Regions from separate parts of the Homo sapiens genome. Here region 2 is linked to region 1. Evidence: fine-mapped expression QTL. A gene starts in region 1. The other region holds a variant in brackets. All regions are shown on one strand. Distances are between the middles of the regions.

The links. PIP is the estimated chance that this variant, and not a neighbour inherited with it, causes the effect.
Region 2: its variant is fine-mapped to the expression of ABT1 in whole blood (INTERVAL, PIP above 0.99).

Annotation. Positions count from the first base shown.
Region 1 is chr6:26,595,881-26,598,797 of GRCh38, reverse strand. ABT1 (activator of basal transcription 1) reads right to left here and starts at 1,845. Exons shown (of 3, transcript NM_013375.4): 1 at 1,575-1,845; 2 at 688-884; 3 at 1-533. The coding sequence starts at 1,815. The coding sequence ends at 153. RefSeq lists enhancers at 1,557-1,996, 2,554-2,713, 2,814-2,917.
Region 2 is chr6:26,643,043-26,645,959 of GRCh38, reverse strand. It overlaps ZNF322 (zinc finger protein 322), which reads left to right. Exons shown (of 4, transcript NM_024639.5): 3 at 2,232-2,301. Among named protein-coding and RNA genes, the nearest start is that of ZNF322, 15 kb to the left of the region's middle. The variant C/T (reference allele first, on the strand shown) is at 1,542.

The DNA of each region.
Region 1 (2,917 bases):
TGGAAGCCCACAAAACTCCATGTTTGGGCCATCAGTAGACACTTGGTCTGAGAAACACAGTAAAATGTCTGCCCGGGTAGTCACGATCATTCTAGTATGAGGTAGACAGGAAGCAGAGCAGGGCCAGGAAATGGAAGGGGCCACCCAGGCCCTCAGGAGTCCCTGACAAGGGAAGGTCCCTCCATGCTCTCTGAGGGTGGCGGGGCTCCAAAGATCCTGGCCAGGAGCCCTTTGTTGGAGCGGGCCTTGTCCTGGGCAGTTGCCAGGCGAGCCCGTTCACGTCCCCCTGGCCGTGCTGCTTTACGGGCCCTCAGTTCCTGCTCAGTAGGACGCTGGGCAAATGTCCAGGAGCCATCTGGGCGAGCAGGGTCCCCATCGGCCGCAAGAAAGCGTTGTCCCCGTTCCACACTTTGAAGATAGAAGTCGGTCTCACGCTTGGCTTGAGCAACCTCCGCTCTCAAGCGCTGCCTGCGCACCTGGCGCTCAAAGGCGAGGTGCTCGCTGAGGTGGGACCAGGTGAAACGGTGCAAGTACTGTGGGCAGAAAAGAAGAAAAGATCAGGATAGTGCAGATTAGGGAGAAAGATGAGACAAGGGGACAAGGCCAATGAGAGGCCATGGGGATACTTGGGCCAGAGTTGGGGAGAAGGGAGGGTGAGAGGTGTGGCAGAAAGATCTATCTTCTCACCTTGAGGTTCCAAAGATCATAACGGAAGGGGCTGCGCCTGCGGGCACCCATAGGCGTGTTGTGTAGACTGGCCGCCACGCGCTTGGCTATGCGCTTGTCACGGAACTCCACCCATCCCTCGGTGTAGTCCTTGGTGTAGGACCGCTTTTTTCCTCCGGCAGCTGCTGCTGCCTTCTTCTTGCGTCTCACGAACCGGTCTGCGCGCCAAAGACAAAGACCCGTCCAGGACGCCTATGCAGCACTCACTCAAAAGCACCTCCCACTGCCCGCAACGTTCTTCACATCTGCCAGTGGGAGTCCCACCTGAAGAGTTTTTGCCCAGGAGGAAGGGAACTGTAAATCGCACCCTTTCCTCTAGCTAACTCAATTCTTTCCTTAATTGTCCACTCCTTAATCTGGCCAGCCCTGAACGCTGCTTAAAACCGGCACAAGTCCTCAGCCTCAATGTAAAATTGAGGGTGGAAAGAAGAGGGGCGGTTGATCAAATAGTTTCTTGACCTAGGCAGCAATGCTAAAGAGTTATGTTCAGTTTTGTAGAAAAGCTGACGAGACTTTTACTCAGGTTGTATTCATGTAACAAACCAGTAAACAGGTCCGGAAAGAGAGGTGAACAGAGCCGGGATAAGAACACAAATAGTAACAATCCGAGAACTAAAGAACCACCAGACACACTGCGCTACCCACTCTCCCCATATCCCCTCCGCCCGCCCACCCCAGCATCCTCACAGACTGATTCACCAGCCAGGAGCCAAGCACCGCACTCCCCACCCCCAAAATCCAGCAACTCGTGCCTCAGCCTCGCGCAGCGAAGCAACAGGACATGCATGCTTGCACCCCGCCAGCGAGCGACAACCTCCTCCTGTCACCGTCAGGGCCTGCATACTTACCCTCAGCCTGAAAGAAGACGCGTCCGACCTCGCCATAGGCGCTGAGAAGGTTGCGGACGTGCAGGGGCCGGAAGCGCGGCGGGATATGGCCCAGGTACACAATACCTGGCACTACCCGTTTCTTGCTGCCACAGGCCGCTTCTTCGGATTCCTCCTGCTCCTCCTCCGCATCTAGTGTCTGTTCTGTCCCTTCCAGCGGCTCTTGCTCCGTTGCGGCCTTCTCCGATTCCTCTGCCTCCATGTTGACTGACACGAGCGGCACGACGGCCGTAAAGTGCCTTGCCAACTGACGCAAAACGCGTGCGACGGCCTGAGACGAGGGGGCGGGTCCAAGGTGGTGATGACAAATGAAAGGAAATGATTGGGCAATACAGTCGGGTCCAGGGGAAGGCCGAGGGGAGAGGGAGGAAGTGGTGTGTCAGGTCGGAAGCCTGATTCAGAGCGTGGAAGCGGGATGGGAAACTTGGGTTAGGCTCAGATTCCCGGTCAGATCTCCAACTCAGGACAGGCAGAACCAGAAAAGGCAGATCCCCAAATATAACCTACCCTATAGAACGCCTTGTCGAGACGCTAAAAGGCGGGTTGATGCCGGCTTTTTAGGGAATTTTGCAGAACAATTTTAGAGAAGTTTCTATGTGTTCTAGCGATCAAAATAGCATTTTATTCAAGGGCCCCGGGTGCGATTCCAGCTGAGGAATGACTCACCTTTTAAAGTTTATAAATTTCATTTAAAAATTTTGAGTTTTGAGGTTTTAACTATTTCTGGAAATTTACCTCGGAATTTTGAATATTTTAAAATTTAATTTTGAAAACAGTTCAACTTTGGAAATTTAATTAGATTTAATTTTTGAAAATTTAAGTTGTGAACTTTCAGTTTAATATTTTACATTTGATTTTGTGAATGTCTGAAAATTTAAATGTGTGACAATTATTTGAAGAATTTGTTTGGCATCTATTACACGTGTGTATTGATACATTATCCATATGCATACTTATGTTGCAAATACTTGTCAGAGGCGCACAAGCCTCCAATTCTGGCGACCCCCCGGCGGCGCGCTTATTTCTGCTCTCCCTGGGTCTGTCCTCAGATTCCCTATCAGATCACAAACCACTTTTCCTTCTATGACCTACGCAACCGCAGAACGGACCGGGCCACGGCGGTCCTGCTCCCACCAGGCGGCCTGCGGACCATCCCTAAGCCAAGCTCAGGGCAGTTTTCCCCGCGCGGGCTCGGGTCCTCAGTCTCTTATCGTCGCCCGAGGGCGCGACCAGCAGGGGGCGCCGTCCCCACCCTTGAGGCGTTTCAGTTCTTCCCATCGGCGCCAGCGACAAGCTGACTGCAA
Region 2 (2,917 bases), 47 kb before region 1:
TCCTGGGTTCAAGTGATTCTCCTGCCTCAGCCTCCCAAGTAGCTGGGATTACAGGGATGTGCCACCACACCCGGCTAATTTTGTATTTTTAGTAGAGACAGGGTTTCTCCATGTTGGTCAGGCTGGTCTCGAACTCCCGACCTCATATGATCCGCCTGCCTCGGTCTCCCAAAGTGCGGGGATTACAGGCGTGAGCCACCGCACCTGACCATACTTAGATCTTTTTTAATGCCTTTAGTTCATTAAAAAAATAAATTTTTATATTTAACCTTTAATTATTTGGTTTTTAAGGGTTTCTAAAATTTTTCTTTTCTAAAAGGCCATTTCAGCTTCAGATGGTTTTTTAGTTTAATAGTGTACTTTAATTCTCACCTGCCATAAATACAATATAGTAATCCCACCTTATTTGTGGGGGATATGGTCCAAGACTCCCAGTGTATACCAGAAACTGCAGATAGTATTGAACCCTAAATGGCTTTTTTTTTTCTATACATACTTACTGTGATAAAGTTTTTTGTACTTAGAGTGGGTTTTTCTTTCTGGCAATGAATTTTAGGTCAGTCTTGCCCACTGCTAGCTCTCTTCTCTTTACCTCTCATTCTCAGATTGTCCTTGCTCTCCTTGATAGCTTATGGCTAGAATGTGAGAGACAGCTATATGGGATTTGGTGACAGTGTGGGCTTTGTATAGTACATTTGTTCTTCTTATTCTTACTGCTTTTAAAGGATGTGTTGAGAGATTTGGATTTCTGTAGCCACTGTTATCCCCTCTGACTGTGTTTTATTACCACATTCTTTATATTTCCTCTAGAGATATTTTCCTTTTTTTTTTCATATTTAAGTCAGTTTTCTGTCCACTGACTTCCATGGCCAATTTTAAATAATTGGTGTGCAAACACCGCATGTTCTCACTTATAAGTGGGAGCTGAACAATGTGAACAGTTAGACACAGGGAGGGGAACAACACACACTGGGACTGTAGCAAGGTGCGGGGGGAGGGAGAACATCAGGAAAAATAGCTAATGCATGGTGGGCTTAATAACTAGGTGATGGGTTGATAGGTATAGCACATGTTTACATAGGCACACATTTACCTATGTAACAAAACTGCACATCCCGCACAGGTACCCTGGAACTTAAAATAAAAATAAATAAATAAATAGATAAATAAATAAATGGTGTGAAAACTTACAGGTTTTCTGAGAAGTCTCAGTTGACAATTACGTTTTACAACTTCCCTCACTTCTATATTTAGGGCTACACCGAGCTTAGGCCCCATACTGAAGAGGACCAAAAGGGGGAAAAAAAAGAAATAAAATCACTGCTGGTTGAATGGCATTTAAAATTCTGCTCTTTCCTGACTTGCATGCTATGTGCTTTTTGGAGTTGTCAAATAACTGGGCCATACATTCTGTCCAGACTTCATAGTTGGATTCAATGGGATGACATCTGTGACATGTATTTACTCCATCTTACCTGGAACTAGAGCCATAAAACATGTCATTTTAATACTAGCAGCTATAAGCTAAGTGTCATAGAGAG[C/T]CTCAGCTGTATGGCCCTATATGTTGCCTGGGTCCAAGTAGTTCCATTTTTGCTTCTGATCCTCAGTAGCAGGAAGGTTGTTGAGGGAACTGCAAGTCCCATTAACCTAAGGATAAGGCAGGTTAAAACTTCTAGAGAAAGACATCAATGGTTAAGTGTGGACTCTCTAACTTCTTTTTGTGCCCCTAATTGACCACCTCCTGGGTTGTTTGTGGTTGAAATATAAATCAGCTTAGGGTGTTATAAATTTTGAATTACCAAAATTGTGATGATTACGTGGGTTGCAGTGGTGGTAAGGTGGTAATTTTGTTATAATCCCAAAAATACTTTGTAGTCCCTATTACACTTTGGATCAGGACAGCCTGAGTTCCTGTAGGGAAGATAATGCCTTCGTGTTTTCAAGATACCACCAAGATTTAGTGTTAGGAGCCCTTTCCTTCAATGTTGTTATAGTTGCAAAGGAAGCTATAGATTGTGCAGATGGGTTATAGATTCTGTATTGTCCTTTTCTCTAAAGAGTCATATGGGATGATTTAAGACTCTACAGAATTGAATTTAAGGGATTAGATAAGAAAACCCATCTGTTCTTTTTAACTGTAGTTTACCCATTGTTAAATCCTTTGAGTGTAAATGATCTAGTGCTAAATTCTCTCATTTATGGCTTTTTATCCTTGTCTTTGTGTTTTACAGAATGCTATCTTCTTTGAGAAGTCAAATTGTCAGGATCAGGAATGTATGTTTTCTTCCATCTGGATTCTAGGTAAGCTGCAGTTACTTCAGTATTTTGAAGTATCCCTTCTCTTTCCCAGACTCCATCTCATCAGAGTACCTCCCATTCTTTGTGACATTCAGTCCTTTTATCAGACAAGGAGAGAAGTAGAATTTCAATGAGAATTCATACATGTACTCAGCAGATGCTTATTAAGCACCAACTTTGTACCTGGCATTACTGTATATGGTAAGGAAAGATAAAACAGACATCCTTGTCATATTTTAGCAATAGACAATAAACTGAATAAAGTGAATTATATAGTATGTTAGAAGGTTTTAAGTGCCATGAAGAAAAGTAAAGCAGAAAAGGGGAATAGTGAATGCTGGGGCATGAAGACTATTCACAACTTTAAACAGAGTGGTTAGGAAAGGCCTTCCTCAGAATTGACATCTGAAAAAATAGTCTTTGAAGGAATTAAGAGAAATTCATACACACATCTGGAGGAAGAAAGCTGTAGGCAGAAGAAAGAAAGGGCAAAGGCCCTAAGGATAGTATGTTTGGATGAGGAACAGCTAGGAAGCCATTGCGGCTGGATTAGAACATGCAAAGAGAAGAATAATATAAAAGGGTGTCAGAGAGGCAGTGACAGGCTAGCAGGGCAGCT